Linked DNA regions of Homo sapiens: region 2 is linked to region 1. Evidence: fine-mapped expression QTL. A gene starts in region 1. The other region holds a variant in brackets. All regions are shown on one strand. Distances are between the middles of the regions. Region 1 holds the start of SUCNR1 (succinate receptor 1). Region 2 holds the start of AADACL2-AS1 (AADACL2 antisense RNA 1).

Region 1 (10,766 bases):
CATGTAGTGCCAGTTACTCAGGAGGCTGAGGGCAGGAGGATCGCTTGAGCCCAGGAGATCAGGGCTGCAGTGAGTTATGGTCATGCTACTGCACTCCAGCCTGGGTGACAGAACAAGACCCTGTCTCAAAAATAAATAAATAAGTAAATAAAAATAAAAAGATAAAGAGAGAGAAAGAGGAAATGAAATCTGTCTCTAATTGTACACAAATGCCTGAATTTCATATACCGCTATTTCTATTCAAGGAAACAAAACAACATTATTTGTATAGAGAAACACCTGTGATTAAGGTTCAGCACATATTATCAAAAATGAATTAGCTGTGGAATTTGCATATAAACTGAAAGATAAAAGGTGAATTTGCTGTGTTTCTAGGTTAATTGTTAGTACTTCAAGGAACTTAGAATATTTTAGCTGTAGTCAGATGCTTTTAACAAATAATGTGTTTTAATTTAGCAGAACAATTCCTTTGAGTTATGCCCAGTACCAATAGATATGACACATATTTTTCTTAACTGTATAATCAGAAAAAAGTCAGTAATGCAAAAATTTCCATTAATAATGTAGCTCTTAAATGACAAGGATTTTCATAGGAAAAGGAAGTAGATTGCTTGAGTGCCTATTTTGAATAGACCATTTTCCGTGGTAAAGTAAATTTGGTTAATATAATTTATTGATTTCTAGAAGCCGGAAGAATTTTGAGACATGCACAAATACCTTCTGCTGTGTTTTTCCTTTTGCTGTTTGTCCTTTATTATTTTGCTACATGAAACCATTCATTGAAAAAGGAAGTAACCATGTAATCTTGCTTATATCTATCCAGAAACACCAAAATATCCTCCCCAATAATCTTGATTTGTTTCAACTTCTGGGGGTTGTTATTATTATTATTGTTTCTCCTTACGGGTTTAGAAGAAAGTCCTCGAATTAGATTAATTGCCCTCTTCTTTCTCTGCTTGTGACCCTTGAAGATTAGCATGACCCTTAAACCAGTTTTGTTTTCCACACAGACTTTTTGGGCTGTTAAATGTGGCTTGTAAACATTCCCAGAGACGTTGCTAGGAGAATCTTTCTATAAATACTTTAACTATTTATTTTTAACATGTTTGATTTTTATCTAAAATGTTCTATTCTTTTTGGAAGTTGGAAGATTTAAATTATTAAATTTGATAATCAATAAGTTTTATAACTAATAATTAAATTTAGTGTTAGTTTTAAATTTATTTTACTAAACTATATAAAATTGCCATATATAAGGTAAAAATGTTCCAATATCAATAATTTTATGTTTCAATCTAATATTTTCATCTTTACCATGAGTGACTCAGGAGAATAATGGAGAAGAGTTTGGATTCAGGAGTCAAACAGATAAGGCTTCAAATTATACAGCCAAATCATGTATTAGCTGTGTATTTGTGGATCATTTATTTAATCTTTATTAGGCCTTGATTTCTTCAACTGAAAATGAGTGATATTAATAATATCCACTGCATTAAATTATTGTGAATATTAAAAGAATCACTGCATACACTGTGTTATTATAGAGTGAATGCTGAAAAAATGTTAGTAGAAGTTATTATTAATTTTTTTTAGACAGGATCCCACTCTGCCACCCAGGCTGGAGTAAAGTGATGCCATCATAATTCATTACAGTCTTGACATCCTGGGCTCAAGTGATCCTCCCACCTCAGCCACCTGAGTAGCTGGGACTACAGGTGTGTTCCACCACTCCCAGCCAATTTTTTCGATTTTTAGTAGAGGAGGTCTTGCTATGTTGCCCAGGTTGGTTTTGAATTCCTGAGCTCAAGTGACCCTCCTGCTTTGGCCTCCCAAAGTGCTGGGATTATAGGTGTGAGCCACCGGACCCAGCAGAAGTTATTACTAGCATTGGATTTAATTAATATTTATATTATATTTCCCACCATTTTCTTTTTCCTCTTGAATTTCCTGATTAGTTTGCCTGGTTTACATGAACTGCTCTTCAATTTCAAGCCCATTGCATTTTCAAACATTATATAATTTGATACTATGAACATTATGAGTTTGATGGGTAGGAATTATTATTCCCCTTTTCCAAACAAGGAAATCAGGTTATGTGATTTTTTTTCAAAGATCACACAAACTAGTAAAAGGCAAAGCCAGGATTAGAACTCACTAATCTTTTTATCATGTTGGCTTTTATAAGGACCTTTTAAATGGATATTTCTGGGCAGCAAGTATTCTAACATCAATGGCACTGAATTACCATTATTATTTTAGAGAAAGTCTTCTCTCATTCATTATAAATTTCTGTAATAGCCAACAATTATTTAGCAACTAATATGTACCTCATATTATACAGTGTACGTATATACTAGTACCTCATACTATGTAGCATATGTACTTCTGCTATATACATAACAATTCATAAGATTGGTAACTCTCATTATCCCTGTTTTACAAATACAAAAACTGAAAGCTAGTGAGTAGTGAAGCCAATATTTGAAACAAAGCAGTTTGCCTCCAGGACCTATGCTCTTAAACACTGTGTTATACTACCTCTTAGCAAACAGTACTACAAGCTTTTAAAAAATATATATTTTAAAAAGTGTTCATTGTTGTACTTAACTTTTTTTTTTTTTGAGACAGGGTCTCACTCTGTCTCCCAGGTTGGAGGGCAGTGGCACAATCATGGCTCACTGCAGCCTCGGCCTCCCCAGGTTCAGGCCATCCTCAAGCCTCCCGAGTAGCTGAAACTAAAGGCACGCACCACCATGCCCCAGCTAATTTTTGCATTTTTTGTAGAGACAGAGTTTTGCCACTTTGCCCAGGCTGGTCTCCAATTCTTGGACTCAAGTGATCCGCCTGCCTTGGTCTCCCAAAGTACTGAAATTACAGGTGTGAGTCACCATGCCCGGCCAGTACTGCAAACTTTCACTGCCTTTCAAACTTCCATTGATTCTCAAGCAGTGCATCTCAACATGTTATATGTAAAAAAAAAAAAAAGACAAAACAAAAAAACTTTGCCCCCTCAAAATTTGATGTGCTATACTGAATAGAAATAGTTTCTGAGGAGGTTTCTACTCTCACAGGCAGAACTGGCTACATATTTAGTAGAGCCCAGTGCAAAAGAAATATATGGGGTCCCTTGTTAAGAAGTTATGAAACATTTTAATTAAGAATGTGACAGTAGAGCATTAACTCAACTGTGTGATCTTTTTTGAGTGTGAAGCACTGTGAGACTACACAGTAGCATACCATGAAACCCACCCTGCTCACAGGGTCATAATTCTGAATCCAGCCTTGTTCCCGTGCAGCTATCATTTTGCAGACCTGCATAAAGCTTTGTAGCAGAAATACTCGTGACCTTTTAGTAAGTCTTTCCCAGTAACACTCTAGTATCTCAACTGAGAGCATTCGGAGGAAACAGGAAGTAGGACTTGGGAGGGAAACAAGGCTACCAGGCTACAGTCTAGATGACGTGTTCTATGAAAAAGGAGAAGCATAGACCAATTTTTGTCTTAGCAGCCAGAGTGAGATGGTAGTCAGGAAGTGGGACGAAGAAAGAGGAAGCTCTCGGGAACTCCCACCACCCCACAAAGGGGGAATTACTCTTTTCTTCCATCAGAATGGTGGCAGAAACCTGTGAAATACATCCATTTGTCTTTGTTTCTTGGAAGGGGTTCATGTTAATTTATGTCTAAAATTAACAAGCCTGGCATTGGTTATTCAAATGCTTTTTGCCCTTTTAAAAATATAGACAAAAATAATGTTTTAACCTTTCTTCCTTCTAAAAGTAGAAAAGAATTGCATTACTGAAAAATACCTGTTATTAATTCTTAGACTTTGTTGTGCACAAGGGTATTGTCATTCAATTCTGTAGGCAGTCAAGAATCAGAGTCGGTGCTTTTAGAATCCAAGTACATAGGCTTAAGCTCTGGTCCCTCCCGTTATTGATTCTGCAATCTTGAGAAAGTTAATTGACCTCTCTGAACCTTAGCTTTTTAATCTGCAAAATGAGAAAAATCTTAAATAATAACAACCTCAGAGGATTACTATATGCATTTGATGCATAAAGGTACTTAGTGTAATACCTGCCTGCCACATCACAAGAACTCAACAAATTATAGATATTTTTATTTCATGTAAATGCACATGTTTGTATACATAAATATTCATACATGTATAAATATATTTTACACATGTATATAAAGTGTGTAATATAGACACATATGTATGTATATATGTATGTGTATATATACATACATATATTTTGAGTTCCTGAGTTTTTAAGCTGTCAGATATTGGTGAGGAGAAATGCTTAGTTAGGAGGATGCCTGTAACAGAGCTTCTTTTTGGGCTTCTGCCTGTCATTGCTAACTCAATATTCAACTTACATAGCATTTAAATTGAATTACTGCTGCCTGCACAATTATGGGCTTTCTTAGTATAATCCCTATGCTTCACATCAAGAAGACTGAGTGTTTACTTGAATCTAAACCTAATATAATGCTTGGAAAAAGCCAGGTGTGCTTCCTGTCTGAAATGGTGGTAATGTACTTCCAGATGTTTTTCAGAGCATTGATTGGGATATATAAATTGCCATCTATTAAGGTTATTTTACTTAGCATCTCTCTCCCTAATCCCTAGCTATCTGATGTATCTTTTATGTGTTTCTTGATTTTAAGCACAGAAAATAAAATGGAAAATAACTTGAAGCTCTAGTATCTTTTTGCTAGTACACCAACATAGCATATATCCAGGTTTCCCTTTAAAATTTCAGTTTTATAGTTCCCTCAAAGTTATTGAAAACAGAGGTTTCGTTATTATATTCTCAATACAGAATTCACTAAGAAAATTAATTTTAAAAAAGAAGAAAAGCAGAGGCAACTGTATTCCCAATATAAGCAGTATTTACCACTTCTTATTGTGTAAATATGCAAATAAAATGAAAATAAGGAATGCTTCTCTGTTGCTTTGGTAGTGGATAAAATAAGTTCAACAGTGTTTTTCTAAAAATCTATTTGGTAAATGTGTTTCCTGTGAAATGAGTTACTTGTTTTTTGTCATTCAATTGCAAAACTGCATGTGAAAATAAAATAAATGTGAATGTGAAAATAAAAGCCTCACAAAAATTCCTCTGCATGAACATCTCTGACTGGGAGGTTTGACTGAATAAATTATTCCTGGGCTTTTGAATTATTAATCTTGGCTGCAGGATATGCAAATAGGATATGCAAATAGGACACTGTAATAACCATGTCCAGTGGCACAACACTGGGTCAGAAGCTATATCCAGCTGCTGGCAGAGTTCCTGTCAAGGGATCAAGTCTTCCAACAGAATGGTAAGCTACATGGCAAATTGTGCCTCTCAGTGTATAAAGTAAGGCCAGATTTCCTTCTAAAGGTGACCTGTGAGCAATTAAGGTTTTCAGTATTAAGTGTTTAAATTAATTCTTTATAAATAGATGTAAAACAGCAAAATAATTGAAAAAAAAAAGTCATTTTTATCTCTACGTTTATTTTTCAACAAATTAACTGTCTTCTTTTAGTTGTCAAATACTAATTTTATTTTATGTAAAAGGATTTATTATATTTGCTAACATCTCAACAACTTATATTTCAACAAAATAGTAATTGGATTTACCTAAATAAATATAACTACTTATGGGGAAAAATTAAAGTTCCTAAATGATTTGAAACAATCATGTATTTGATACATACACACACACACACACACACACACACACACACATATACATACATATATATATATATATATATATTTTTTTTTTTTTTTTTTTTTTTTAAGACAGAGTTTCACTCTTGTCACCCAGGCTAGAGTGTCTGAGTGCCAGAGTGACACATTTACAGCATGTGTTGGCTCACTGCAACCTCCGCCTCTGGGGTTCAAGCAATTCTCCTGCCTCAGCCTGCAGAGTAGCTAGGATTACAAGCGCCCACCACCACGCCCGGCTATTTTTTTTGGATTTTTTAGTAGAGATGGAGTTTCACCATGTTGGTCAGGTTGGTCTCAAACTCCTGACCTCAGGTGATCCACTCATCTCGGCCTCTCCAAGTGTTGGGATTCCAGGCATGAGCCACTGTGCTGGGGCATAATATTTTTATGTTTAGAAAATAATGTATTTGGGGGAATTTTCAGGCATCCTAAAAATTAAATTTAACATTTATGTGTGTAAAAATGATATTACCCAATAATTAATTTACTTAGGAAAAATGAAAAATTGCAGAAACCATTTCTATTCTACCTTCCATAACTTTTCAAAATGTGTGTGGTATTCTTAAAGAAGTTAATACACAATTTGTGCCATACTATTACTTTTTAATACCTTAATTTCTGGTGTAATGTATGGAATACATAAAAATAAAGTTACAAATGTTAAATTATTATATCTTTTCAGTGTGAATATATATTTTTGCTCAAATTATTTAGTAATCAAAAAAGTAATTTGTTAAAAAAAATTCTCATGTTACCATGTAAATTTGCCTTAAGGTAGCACTTAAAAGTAAACATTTTACAAATGTTATTTGTTTAATTGTGATGACTATAAAAACAAACAATTAAAAAGCTAAGAAACTATCACATATATATTTTAAAGTAAATTTCAAAAATGCAGATTTTCAAAAGGCTGAATATATTTAAAGTAAAAAACATTTTCAAGTTAAGTATTATTGGTCTGCTTATGTGAGTAAATTAGATATTGCTTCTAGTTCAATAATTCTAACAGTTTTAGATATATTTTTGGACTGGAAACTAAAGATTTCACTTTAATTTCTGCTCTTAAAAAATACCTATTCAAAATAATTCATCCAAATCAGTTACAATTTATTTATCACTATTTCCATTTCCTAAAAATTAAGAATATAGCCACTAGATAGCAGAAGAGAGAATATGAATTTTTCATGAGGGAATTTTCTCTTTAATTGGGAGTTTTGCTTAAAGGAGCAACTTACTTCATATGTTTATAGAATTGCGATGCCACACTAAAAACATACCCAACTATAAACATATCCAATTTGAAATATAGTATCTTCAAAATTTTGTATCCTAGTGAAGTTAAATTGGTCTGCAAATATTGCACAGCTCATATTTATAAAATCATAATCTATTAGAATTATGAACTTAGAAAAAATGAAACAAATGTATCAAAAAATTATAAAACATCATAAAAAAATCTCATTTTTATGAATAAAAATTCAGGTAAATATTAAAATGTAAAAGGGTACCCAAATATTAGGAGTGGTCTGTTTACAGACCATTTTTATTTCTTATTTTTGCCTATTTGATTTTATGAGTGTTACACCTTAACAATAATTTTACACATACATTTTTAAAAAGTTGTTTCAAAAAAATGAAGAAACAACTGTATGAGAAGAAAGACAAATATGATAATTTAGTCATTCATTTCTCTTATTTCAGCTCTACTCCTTCCCTACTACTCCTTCAATCCCCGACCTTCTGGGCTACTATAAAGCAGAATGCTCCTTGACTTTCATGTGACCCGTCACCTGCCTGAGTGATAGTTGCAGGAAATCAGGCTCTAGTTGCACAAGTCTTTGTGGCTATATTTTCCTTCCATTGCAGTCAAATCTTTCTGCTGTGCACAATACATAAGCTATTAACATTACCAGTGGTGACTAGGCAGAAAGATAAACGTTATGACCAGAAAAAAAGGAAATGCAAAAGTGAAACAAATTTCTTGTGTCAAGGAAACTTTCTATACCTTAATTTTCATTTGAATTTGTGCACCAGCTTTTTGAGTACCCACAAAATAACAAGAGCTCAGAAATAAGGCCTGAGAAGGTCCAACATTTAAAACTTGGGCAAAGAAGGATTAAGCCACAAAAGAGCATGAAAATGGAGAAAGGAGGAAAACAAGGAGATTGTTGTGTCATAGAAGATAGGAAGAGAGTGCTTCCAGAAAGTGTGGACTTAAAAGCTACTGAGAATAAATAATAATAGTAAAAACTGACCATTGAGCTAAAAAAAATAAAGTTTGTTAATATGTTAAAGCCTATTGACATTTTTGCTATATTTCTAGAAATTTAAAGTTTTTAATATTATCAAATAGATGCCAATTTTGAGAGAAAAAATGATAGGAAATTTAGATAAAAGGAGAAAGGAAATAATAAAAACTACCTGAAATCTCATCATTAGAGATAAAGCTATTAACATTTTGATGCACGTCTTTCTAGACTTCTTATGCTTATTAATTTCAGGTGTCATTTCTTAATTAAATGCTTCAGTTTTAAAATTTATCCTGGTAGATATTTAATTTTGCCTTATACAAATGTGTTTCTAAACTACAGCTACTACTACTACAATTACTAATTTTTAATACTTATCATATTATATTATATATAGTGTTGACTTTCACAGTGAAATAAGCAATGAGCTTAATCTGATGGTCTTGCTGCTTATCTGGCCTTGGAGAAAATATTTATAAAAATGCTTTGTAAATAGTCAGGTGTTCATATTCATCTCTTCACTCAACAAAGATTTATAGATCACCTACTATCTGCTGGTCACTGTGCCAGATGTGGACAATAAAAAATGAGTAAGACAAAGTTATACAAAATTCTAAGAAGTTTAGTATACAATGAAAGCATAAATGGGAGGACCTACTTTAGACTGAGGGTCAGACAGCCTACCTTGGGAAACCTACACTTGAACAGAGGCCTGAGAGAAGTATAGATATATGACAAATATGTGATGGGCCAGGAATCACAGGACAAAAACAGCAGTGAAAAGAGATTCAGATAGAGGGACTGCATGTTAAGAAGGCTCTCTGTGCATTCAAAGAGCAGGAAGAAAGGAAGATGAATTAGGAGGAGAGTAATGCCAAGCAAAATTGAAGTGGGTGCAGGGGCCAGATCATGCAGACCTTGATGTCCCCATTAAGGATTTTAGACTATATTCCTTGGATAGTGGAAAGTTAATTAAGGGTTTTGATCAAGGAAAGCTATATGATCTGATTTTGAGTTGTAGTTTTTCAAGACTGTTTAGCTATAATGGTAAAGATGAACTGATGAGGGCCAGAGAGGATGTGAGGAGACAATAGCAGAATATGACATAGAGCAAAATAGAGATAAGAGTAGCCTGGACGAGAATGATAATGAAAGCTATAGAGCAGTAATGATAGATTTGAGAAATACCCAGACATTACAGTAAACAGACTTGGTAGTTTATTCATTACTGGTGTTGAGTTTTAGATGACTTTGAGGATATTGCTTAGATTTTCGTGGTGAGCACCTGGATACATGGCAGAACCATTTACTGAAATTGGTGGATATGCTGCAGGCTTGGTAAGGAATTTGGAGAATTTGGTGTAGGATTTCTAGAGGCAGAGACATCTGAGAGAAATCAATCAATGGCAATAAACAATTATAGTTTGTAAGGCAGATACAAGCTGGGCTGGAAATCTGGGAGTTGTTGATGTATAGTTGGTCATTAAACCTCAAAAGTGAATGAGATCATTTAGGAAGAATCTATGAAAAGAAGGAGCCCAGAAATTAGCCTTGAGGAACTCAACATTTATTGCTTGAGCCAAGAAGACTTGAGCCCCAAAAGTGCCTGCAAAGAACAACCAGGGAGAAAGAAGGGAAACTAGGATATTGTCATGTCTCAGAAGGCAAAAGAAGAGTGTTTCCAGAAGACAGAGTATGAAAAACAACTGATAAATAAAATAAGATTAGTGAAAAATGATTATTGGAATGAGCAATGTGGAGGCTACTTGGAGGACTGGTAGGTCCGAAGCCAAATTGGAGTAAGTTGAAAGGGAATGGGGTGTCGAGATGTCAAAACACTTAATGAGATGGCTCTTTCCAGAAATCAAACTATGAAGAGGAGAGGAACACGTGAAACTAGGGAGAGTTGTTTATGTTGCTCCTTATTGTAAGATTGAAATGATGAGAGTGTTTAAATTCTAATGGAAAAGAGGACATGAAGACTGACGATGAGGAGAAGAATGCTGAAGAGTCAGAAAAGAAGAAATAATGGTACCATGGGAATACTGAGAATTTGGGAATGAGTTGGATCTAGAGTAAGCTCAACAAATGCTCTCTATCTCAATGAACTAGGAGGTAAAACCATTTGCTAATAATGAGTAAGGTAGAGTAAATGAAAAAAGTTTTAAGAGATAAAAAAATATGAAATTGAGAAATATAGGAATATGCTGGCAATATGAGAGAGCGGTAGAATTAGGTGACCTCAAAGACAGAGTGAAACCCATCTGCTTTATTCTTCAGCAGCATTCATGTGTCTGCTGCTTGAGAAAGTTTCCACTCAGCTTTGTCTGGAATTGGACTTAGTGGCAGGTTGCCATAGAGAGATTCGAGAGACTCCGAAAAATGTATAATGTTTTAAAGTAAGTGATTAAAAATAACTTTTCAAAATATTAAACTTATATCTACAATTCTGTGACTTATTTTCATAAATAAAACACTCTCAAAATAACAATGATCTTTAACTAAAGTAAACCACTTGAATTTGACAAAAATACATGAGTTTTCCAGATGCCTTATCATAGCAAATTCTACTGAATTTTGCATGCTTCTCATAAAAAGCAGTTTAGGTGCATTTATTCTTATTTTGTTCTATTTACCAAAATTCTAAATTGAAAGAATTGTTTGTTTGCAACTAATACTCAGAAGCCTACTTGACAAAGAGGTTTTTAGAACATTTTGTTTTCAACCTTGGTTTTCCTCACTAGAAATAAGTAACACTTAATGTTTAACAATGGCAATCCAGTACTTTTTTCAGATAA
Region 2 (10,766 bases), 55 kb after region 1:
CACTTAAACTACTTTCTTTCCATCATCAAAGAGTATGCTTAAATACAACTCCAAAGCCAAGGGTTTAATCCTAATCTTTTAGAAATTTTTTTTTAAGTTTTGAAAATTACCTACATATTATGATTTCCTAGATATTGTTGATGAAATGTAAATGATGGGGAGGACAACTGCAAAATGACATACAGGTGTCCTGGAGGACTCCACGTGACTTTATCCCAATATATGTATGCATTATTAATCACCAGGATCCACAATTTTGTGATCATAATGTTAAGACTTTTTTGAATCTTTTGGGCGAATGTTGATATGCATTTTTTATTTCCCTCTAACAAAAAGTCTTAAAGTCTCCTCTCTCTTGTCTTTTTACAGTATAACCAGAGTAGAATGTGGATTTAGGAAATATGATAAGTTGTATACCATCTGGTTCTTTACCATAGACTATTTCCCATGCTATTATATCAGAGGGCAGAAACTGGCAGCCTCAAATAAAGTTTGTTCTGTAGATACATTTTTTGGGAGGTCAGATATTTTATTAGAAAAAATTAAATCAGTTTTTAACATTTAAAAATCAGAAGATTTTCAATTTTAAAAATCTACATTTTTGGCTTTTTTAACTGGGAACTTATTTCCACCCATCAAGAGAAGACTGATCTTAAGAGAAATGTCTGTCTTGGGGAGGAGTGCAGGATGGCAGACCTCTTTATTTTGGCAAAATTCCTACCACACTCTATTGTATTACACCCAGTATATGCATGAATTTTCTCGATAGACATTTGAGTTTGCACTCCCTGACACTTTCCTCTGCTACTTCAGTTACTGGCTCTTATCACTGACATTTAAGAATCTCTTTATAATGGCCTAGAGAATAAAGTTGCATAGGATGCCTATCCATGGAAATTCCAATGTTCATACAGAGCTAAATCTGTTCATCAGTGTTTGCAATAATTGCTATGCTTTAAAATTTGTAAACGATAGTTGAAAGGAAGTCTTGCAGCCAGATGATATCTGACTCATTTTTGTAGTATGATTAATTGTGCTATAAAAAGTATTTTTTAATCTAGTCAGGATTCTTTAGGCTCAAGAGACAAAGAATACTCAAGCCCAGATGAATTTAAAACTAAAAGTTGAGTGTTATGGTTGGAATCTAGGAGACCTTTAAGAAACTGGTAGTGAGACTAGCAGAATTAAAAGATAGGCAGGGGCTGGCTGGGTACTCTGGGCTCTCTTACTAAGTGTCTCTGTTTCTTAGTGATTTTTTTTTTTTTTACAATGTCTCTTCTTTTTTACTCACTCTTCTTTTAAATACTTTTTTGCCTCCCAATTTTAACCTTCACAATGCCACACAATGTCCATCCCAGCCTATGACTTTTTTGGCCACAGTTGGTTGGTTTTTTGAGAGGACTCTGGCCTAGCTCATCTTTTGCAACCAGCCAGAGGAACTGTAAGACAACATGCAGCTTCTGGATTGGTAGCCTTTGGATAAAAGCGTTACTTGTCCAATCAGTCACAGCCAATGATGTGTTAATACCATCATAATCACCATCATGTCATCTCTTATCATTACTGTCAATATTATTGCTAACACGTCTTAGATGCTTACTATGTACCAGACAATCTCCTAAACACTCTAGACCTGATTCATTTAATCCCAATTACAATGTGTGAGGCAGACACTCTTTTGACCATATTTTACGGATGAGGATATTGAGCATGGTTGTGGTGCTCAGCAGGGACTTGAAGGCAAGGGCAGCATCCCTTATTGCTAGCTGAGGGACAAGCATAATAGATGTGTCTAGAAAAAACTGTTTTCCCTTTGGGCTTGCAAAATAGGAGGTTCACAGAGAATTACAGGGTAATCCCTTTATTGAGAAATTACTAAAACTGGTTTGCAATTTGCTTTGTTTGCACAGTTGTGCATCTCTCTAAATGTATTACAGGCTGGTACAGTCAGCACTCGCAACGGGACAACTTCAGGGTCAGACTTTAAAGTATATAGAGCTTTTTCACTCCCATTCCCTTTTCTGTGTTCCCAGATTCCATGAATCCTTTCTTTCCACTCTCTTCCCCTTCAGTCAGTCTCTGCTGTTGCTAGCTCCTCGTGAATTCTTTAGTTCTTTCCTCTGAAGACTCAATCTCACCCACAGGTTTCGACAACATTGTGAACACGGGACTCGGCAAGGTCAAGCAGTGACCAGACTCGGGGAATACTTGAGAATAAATGTTTGCTGCCCAACCTGAAACACCTAGGTAGTCACAGATTTTGTGCAGAGTTGGTGCTTAAAGGCCAGTTGCAGGCCCTGTGGTAAATTTCAGGAATAAAGGTAGGACCTCAGTTGAGAACCAGCAGCCAAATACAAGTCAAAGTGCAGCATAATGAGAGATGCACAAATATCAAAGCAATCCAAGAAGGAGAAATTAAGTAGTGGCAGGTAAATTAAAAGTCAGAGAGAGCTTTGGAGAGAGTGAGCATGTTGGGATAAACTTTGTCAACCTAGAGGATGTGGCTTCGGTGATCTCATAACCATGCGCCGTTGGGGTGTTATGAATCTGTACACACCACAGGTGGAGGCTTAAAGACAGCTATGTGCTCATTGAACTACTGAAAGCCACACAACCCAGATTTTCTTCCTCCAGGGGGTCTCAATGGAACACCGTTCCTTCTCTGTTCCCTCCTTCCCTCTCTCCCTCCCTTCCTATAATTGCCCTTTTCAGTCCTTTTCAGGCACCAGGTACTTTTCAGGTGCTAGGGATCTAGTAGTGAATAACACCCTACCCTCGAGGAATTCACATACTAGAAGTAAAGAGAGACCATAAACAAAAGTCCTACTGGAATTTCTATTTGCCAAGATTTCCCCGATGTATTTTTTGGACGTCAACCTAAGCCTGACCAAGAAACCCTCATTAAAACAAAAGTTACAGCTCCAGCCTCTGTGTGGCTAGTGGATAAGCCTCAAGGCAGCTCACAGCTCCCTCCTGAAAGACTTGTTTGCCTCATGGTTTTTTATGGATGAATCATGCTTCCTACTAGACTCCTGAGATTTTTTTTTAAAACTCTTGTCTTAATGTTCTTTTCTTTTACCTCTTTTCTTTTTATCCTAACCCACCTTCAGAAAATAATAAGATACAAGTCATGTATAACTTAAATGTATGTAAAACTTTAGTTTAAATAAATGTACCATCTTTCAGGGACACAGCCATCTTACTTCTTAGTTTGAAAAGTTGAATGAAAGTATTTTTTCCCTATTAGAAACATTTTAAAAGTAAGGATCTAAATGAAGTGACTACTAAGAATAAAGCCTGTCCAAATATACACCTTTTTTTATTATGTGGAAGGCAGGAATTTATTCAATGTTTCCTTCGGTTTTAACCAGAAACAAAAAGTACCTCATGCCTTCCAAAAATGCTCAAAGATAACGAGGAATTACACTGCCTCATCCTAATTCTCTCAAGCTTAAATTTCTTAATTACAGTTGTTTGCCAGCAGTTCTTTATTAGTATAGAGTCAGCTTCCAACAAAGGAGGAATCATTAGTGCAGCAAGATAGCTGGCCTCTTCGGGAGGAAACAGACAGCTGGAAGTCCACGACCAATTCTCAGTAAAGGGACACTGCATGGGTAGGAAAATGGTTGAAAGTAAACTTAGGTAGCTGAAAAGAGCCATGTCTGCCATGGCCTCGTGTTGAAGTTAGAGCAGAGCACACCTATTTATTCTGACAATTTAAGACCTCATTAACTAGACACTGCTTAGGGCAAATTAATTGTGTTGAAAGAGAAACACCCATCAATACATTTATTAAGTGTACCCCTATTATTAGAATCTTTATATTTTATATTCTGGGTAGGGTGGAGACAGCGAACTTGCTCTATAAATGATTAGTAAAGTGTTTTTTGTATATTTGAGTCAGACTAAAAAGTGTCCAAATATGTGCTAATGGTAACCCAGTCTCTAAAAATAAACTATGTGCCTGTTGCTTACAATGCTGGCTTCTTTGAGATCTATTTTACATGGTTTTTCCATGCCCAGAAAAAAAGAGGTGCGGCTCTTACTGCAAACACATTTGAAAATCTATCTGATGATTTTGTAGGGCCCAGAAAGCACCTAAACATGACTCACATATTACCAGCTTCAGAGCAACTGAAGCGATCGTAGCGATTGTTTTTTAACTCCCCACAGATGTTGGAAAATTACAAGGCTTGTGCTTCATAAAAATATCACTCTACCTACGCCTGGCTTCTGCCTTTATTTTAATGAATGAGAATGTGTAAAAATTTGGAATTGTGCATGTTTGAATTCCATAGGCAGTGATTAAGATTAACTAATTGATTGTGCAAAGCTTCAGAAAATTGAAACCAACTTGCTATATTTCATGGGCTTCTATCAAAACAAAATAAAGATTTGTTTGGCCTTTTTTTTTTTTTTTCATTTTCTGCTTTTATTGCCTCTTCTTTCTCCTTACATTTTATCAGAAGACAAATATTTTGGGGGCTTGAGGAGAACAGAAAAGGGCAAATTTCTCCATGTTATAACATTTTCTTATAGAATCTGACTCTGCAAAGCAGAGAAGTGATTCAGCTAACCTCCCTCAGGTTTTCTTTCCTAAATTTTATGCATGAGAAACTGATGCTCAGAAAGATGTTCACTGGTTATTCCCAGACCCAGAAAGCAAAGTCTATTTTCTTTATTCGAGCCATGTAACTACTACCAAAATTTTTCACTGAGTATAACCAAAACTAACTTCAGATGAGTTAAATCCAAAAGGAATTGTCAAAGTTTGTTG[T/C]ATACTCACAGAATTTCCGGAAAAGCTGGAATGTTAGACTCTGAAAATGAGCAGGAACCACGAAAAGCTGAGTAGCAGGAACACGACCAAAATTATTCCTCAGGAAACGTTGGGATGGGCGTTATTGAGAGGTGACAGCGTGCTGGCAGTCCTCACAGCCCGCGCTCGCTCTCGGCGACTCCTCTGCCTGGGCTCCCACTTTGGCGGCACTTGAGGAGCCCTTCAGCCCACGGCTGCACTGTGGGAGCCCCTTTCTGGGCTGGCCAAGGCCAGAGTCCACTCCCTCAGCTTGCAGGGAGGTGTGGAGGGAGAGGCGCGAGCGGGAACCGGCGCTGCGCGCGGCGCTTGCGGGCCATCTGGAGTTCCGGGTGGGCGTGGGCTTGGCGGGCCCCGCCCCCGGAGCAGCGGGCGGGCCCCGCCGACCCCGGGCAATGAGGGGCTTAGCACCCGGGCCAGCGGCTGCGGAGGGTGTACTGGGTTCCCCGGCAGTGCCAGCCCACCGGCGCTGCGCTCGATTTCTCACCGGGCCTTACCTGCCTTCCCGCAGGGCAGGGCTCGGGACCGGCAGCCCGCCATGCCTGAGCCTCCCACCCCCTCCATGGGCTCCTGTGCGGCCCCGAGCCTCCCAGACAAGTGCCACCCCCTGCTCCACGGCGCCCAGTCCCATCGACCACCCAAGGGCTGAGGAGTGCGAGCGCACGGCGCGGGACTGGCAGGCAGCTCCACCTGCAGCTCCGGTGCGGGATCCACTGGGTGAAGCCAGCTGGGCTCCTGAGTCTGGTGGGGACGTGGAGAACCTTTATGTCTAGCTCCGGGATTGTAAATACACCAATCAGCACTCTGTATCTAGCTCAAGGTTTGTAAACACACCAATCAGCACCCTGTGTCTAGCTCAGGGTTTGTGAATGCACCAATCAACACTCTGTGTCTAGCTACTCTGGTGGGGCCTTGGAGAACCTTTGTGTCTAGCTCAGGGATTGTAAATACACCAATCTGCACTCTGTGTCTAGCTCAGAGTTTGTAAACACACCAATCAGCACCCTGTGTCTAGCTCAGGGTTTGTGAATGCACCAATCGACACTCTGCATCTAGCTACTCTGGTGGGGCCTTGGAGAACCTTTGCGTGGACACTCTGTATCTAGCTAATCTGGTGGGGACGTGTAGAACCTTTGTGTCTAGCTCAGGGATTGTAAACGCACCAAATCAGCGCCCTGTCAAAACAGACCACTGGGCTCTACCAATCAGCAGGATGTGGGTGGGGCCAGATAAGAGAATAAAAGCAGGTTGCCCCATCCAGCAGTGGCAACCCGCTCGGGTCCCCTTCCACACTGTGGAAGCTTTGTTCTTTCACTCTTTGCAATAAATCTTGCTGCTGCTCAGTCTTTGGGGCCGCACTGCCTTTATGAGCTGTGACACTCACCGCGAAGGTCTGCAGCTTCACTCCTGAGCCAGCGAGACCACAGAACCCACCAGAAGGAAGAAACTCCGAACACATCCGAACATCAGAAGGAACAAACTCCAGACGCAGATGCGCCACCTGAAGAGCTGTAACACTCACCGCGAGGGTCCGCGGCTTTATTCTCGAAGTCAGTGAGACCAAGAACCCACCAATTCCGGAAACATTATGGCCGCACTGCAGAATACCAGGTATTGCCCCTACCAACCCCGGACATTGCCTGTCATTAGCGCTGTCACCAGCACTGTTCAGACTCTGGAACTCTTGTCTCTGCTACCTGCACTGGGACAAAAATCTCCTTTGTCCCTGTATCTTTGCATCACTTGCTCTAGAGTGGATTTCCTGGCAGGTTATATGCCTTTATCCTCGGTACTGCAAAATCTGCAAAAGCAAGCGCCCATCATTTCTTACTTTTGTGGACACCGAAAGTAATGGATAATTCCTTACCCCATTCCTTGCCCAAGAAAGGAAGGGACTGCATGTGATAGGCAGCCACCACCACCAGTGATATCAGCCTAACATATCATGTTTATATTATTCAGTTAGAAAAGGAAAAAATGGCCACTTTTAAACAACATTTATATAATAAACAGTTAAAAAAAAGGAAGAAGCTGCACAACCCAAAGAATGTAGAAGAAAGAGCCCCTCTGCTACATCTAAACCAAACCTGTTACTACTTTGCCATGTTACCTTGAACAGGACCCTTCACCTCTCTGCTCCTGTTTCATTGTCTTACAAATGAGGGGTTGGACCAAGTGATCTTAAGGTCCCTTCTTTTTTGATATTCTCTAACTAAAACATGACAGTATCAAAGGGGGAGACTAGGTGGCTTAGTCTGTGGCTTTGCCAATCAGATCTCAATTGGAAGAAACAATCATGAGGTTGAAAGCAGGTTTGTGCAAACAGACAAGAAAGAAAACCAAGGTATTTTTTAAAAATTGTATCATTTGTGCTCTGATCCAGAAAGGGAAATGGGTTTTTTTGTTTGTTTGTTTGTTTGTTTGTTTTGGAAATGGAGTCTCGCAATTCTCCTGCTTCAGCCTCCCGAGTAGCTGGCACTATCAGTGCACGCCGCCACGCCTGGCTAATTTTTTCTTTTTTAGTAGAAATGGAGTTTCACCGTGTTGCCCAGGCTGGTCTCAAACTCCTGAACTCAGTCAATCTGCCCACCTCGGCCTCCCAAAGTGCTAGGATTACAGGCGTGAGCCACCGCACCTGGCCAAGGGAAAGATTTTAAAATTCATCTCAAGGGGTAAAATATTTGTCACCAACTAGAAAGCAGAATATCATATCAGAAAAAATCACTCTCACCTTTGTCCATATGCTGGAAGGCAACTGGAGTAGCCATCTGGATTCATTCATAAAAATTTGCTCTGTTAAAGCAAAGTGGATACAAGAGCACTTGGTAAGCCAGGACTGTATTGTTTCTGCATCATTAAGGTTACTCCTGTTGTCATTTTCATTGAAATCATAGGCATCATCTGGCAGGCTTTTTTGTTTTTTTGTTTTTTTTTTAATTAAGGGCTAGGGTTTTGTTGTGTCAACCAGGCTGGAGTGCAGTGGCATGGCCATAGCTCACTGCAGCCTCAAACTCCTGAAACAATTCTCCTGCTTCAGCCTCCCCAGTAGCTAGCACTACAGGCGTGCACCACCACACCTGGAAATATTTTTTCATTTAATATTTTATAGATACAAGGTCATGCTGTGTTGCCTAGGCTGATCTCAAACTCCTGGCCTCAAGTGATCCTCTCACCTTCGCCCAAAGTGCTGGGATTACAGGTGTGAGCCACCATGCCTGGTCTGGCACTGGCAGGCTTTGGTTTCTAATGCCTAACTTGCCAGCTACTTCCTCTAATCTAATTTTTTACAAACCCAAGAAGCTCTGAAGATGAGACAAAATAATTTTTTGAAAAATTTTCTTTATAAACACACACATACATATATCAAAAACAGAGAGCCTGGTCATGACATAACATTGTATTGAAGGGGTTCTTTTTATTTTTCTCAGATCTTAGGTTTATTCATCTTTTATTTTTCACCATAGAAATCCTATGACTCATAAAAACACAGGGCCAGGAGTCCTGTGACTCTATATTTTCATAGAGAGAACATGATTTGGAAGACCAGACTTAATAATTTTACTCTGTCTCAAATTTTGAATAGTGTTTGCTTTAAAAGGCATCTTATCACCGAAAGCAAAGTGAGAAAAATGAAGTCAACATTCACTGACAATTCTTGCCACTCAACCCTTTAAAAAGATAACCAACTACATAGTTACTGAGGGGTCCTTCATTATTAGGGAGTAAGGGGAATAACTTTCACATCTCTATAGTATTTATGGATCTGACATCTGGATAATAAGGTGTTTTGTAAGTAAATCTTTCGATAACATTGTTTTAATTTTCTGAGAAAAACTCAACCTTATTATCAAAACGTATTTCACCTGACTATATTTTCCCCAAATATAAAATTTACCAATAGGAGCAATCAGTCAGTACATACTAGGTCTTACTCATTAGTATATTAATACCAATTTCACAACACTGCATAAACAAATCAGCTTCATAGAATAAAATTCTAAAATATTCTGATGTAAATTAGTAAATGTATGCAGGGAATTATTTATTTACATATTAACATTAAAACATTTGAAAAGATTACACATCAACTTGAAGTACAAACACTCTGCAGATCATCTTACATTTTCTCTTGTGCCTTCTCAGGCTAAATGTTCTTAATGAAAAATGACAAGAAAAAGGTGTGAATAGTCAGCAGTGTTAATGCTAATTTTTGAGGTAAAGGAGACAACTAGCTTCAAATAATATTTGAGTGAAAATGACTATTTCCTCAATCATTAGTCATAGGGAAAGGAGAATGAGAACACTAAAAAAAATTATTTAAATAGCACTTTATATTCAAATATTTTAATTAAAAATTCATTAAATATTTTAAACTAAAGAAGTAAAGCATTTGGAACCTAAGCTCCAGGCAACTAAAATTTGGTCAAAGTATTTCATGTACCTGTCAAATTGCAGATAAAAGTTGTAGTTTCTTTTTCTTTTTCTTTTTTTGTATTCATCTTTGGCATTTAAAGTAGATTAGCTAGTTGTTGGGTGTGGACATCTGTGTCTTGAGCTTTTCTCCTGGAAATCAATATTTATTTAATAAACCTTTTTTCTTTAAAGGCAAATTATCATCTGTTTTTTCAGGGTGGTCCCGGTACTTTCCAGTTATAAAATAAAATCGGCTGAGATTCAAGAAGTTCATTTGGCTTGAGGTTAAAAAGTAAATTTTGGCCCTTTTGAATTGAAACTTGGTTAGTCAGAACCTCTAATCATTTCCCTCTAAAAAACCTAGGGTTATTTTATTTTAGAAGGAGACGACTATTGAATCCATGAGTCACTCTAAGGCAAGTCTTAATATTAATCTTTAATTCTTTATATTAAATCTCAAAGGGCCGGGCACGGTGGCTAACGCCTATAATTTCAGCACTTTGGGAGGCCAAGGCGGGTGGATCACTTAAGATCAGGAGTTCAAGACCAGCCTGGCCAATATGGTGAAACCCCGTCTCTACTAAAAATACAAACATTAGCCAGGCATGGTGGCACGTACCTGTAATCCCTGCTATAGGGAGGCTGAGGCAGGATAACCGCTTGAACCTGTGAGGCAGAGGTTGCAGTGAGCCAAGATTGCGCCACTGCACTCCAGCCTGGGTGACAGAGCAAAATTTAAAAAAAAAAGAAAAAAAAAAACTCAAAGGGATATTCTGTTCTGTTCTGGGATCCCCAGTCTCCACTCTACACATAATATTGCACATTTCAAACCAAGATTAAGAAGGTGAACGAACTCAGCACTGGCAGAAAAAATCCCTTGACTTTTGCAAAGTCAAGCCAATTCATTCTGAGCCCATATGAAGAATATGTTATTGTTCTGATACCTTAAGCCAGGTTTTTTTCCATTATTTTTAAAGTACCCCTTTAATTAATTAGAAAAGCATAAAATTAAATTTTAAAGCATTTTGTTTTACGCAATCAATTCATCTTTAGAAATGCATAAGAGAACGTAAGGATTGTCATCCTTCATTTTACAGAGGAAAGTGATAATAATCATTTGCTGAGTCATCAACACTACAAAATAAAGCCCTGGAGAAAAGGTTAGCATTTAGACAGTCTTTGCATCTGGGGTAAGTTTAGAAAACTAAAAAAGCTGCATTAAAACAAAAAGAAAGAAAAAAATTTTAAAAAACTAAAAACAGACCAGATGTTGACTGCTGAATGTCAATGGCAACAAGAGAAAAACAACACATGTGGATTTAATGTTCTTTCTGCAGATAGAATCTCAGAAAAACATATTCTCTAAGAGATCAGACCAATTTTGTTTGAATGTAAACCACTGCCTAACACACCCTACCACATTCCTATGCCTGGAGAAACAGGAAAGATGAAGATGAATAGGCCTAACATGAGCCCAAACTTCAAGAAGAGTCAGAAAATTGCCAGTGAATGAAATAAGTAAGAGCTCACACTTCATGGA

Evidence for each region. PIP is the estimated chance that this variant, and not a neighbour inherited with it, causes the effect.
Region 2: its variant is fine-mapped to the expression of SUCNR1 in whole blood (TOPMed, PIP above 0.99).

Annotation. Positions count from the first base shown.
Region 1 is chr3:151,868,383-151,879,148 of GRCh38, forward strand. SUCNR1 (succinate receptor 1) reads left to right here and starts at 5,261. Exons shown (of 3, transcript NM_033050.6): 1 at 5,261-5,324. The region is part of intron 1 of AADACL2-AS1 (AADACL2 antisense RNA 1); the gene reads right to left.
Region 2 is chr3:151,923,071-151,933,836 of GRCh38, forward strand. AADACL2-AS1 (AADACL2 antisense RNA 1) reads right to left here and starts at 5,105. Exons shown (of 3, transcript NR_110203.1): 1 at 4,787-5,105. LOC107986047 (a long non-coding RNA gene) reads right to left here. Exons shown (of 3, transcript XR_001740567.1): 2 at 9,255-9,376; 3 at 7,482-7,606. The variant T/C (reference allele first, on the strand shown) is at 4,778.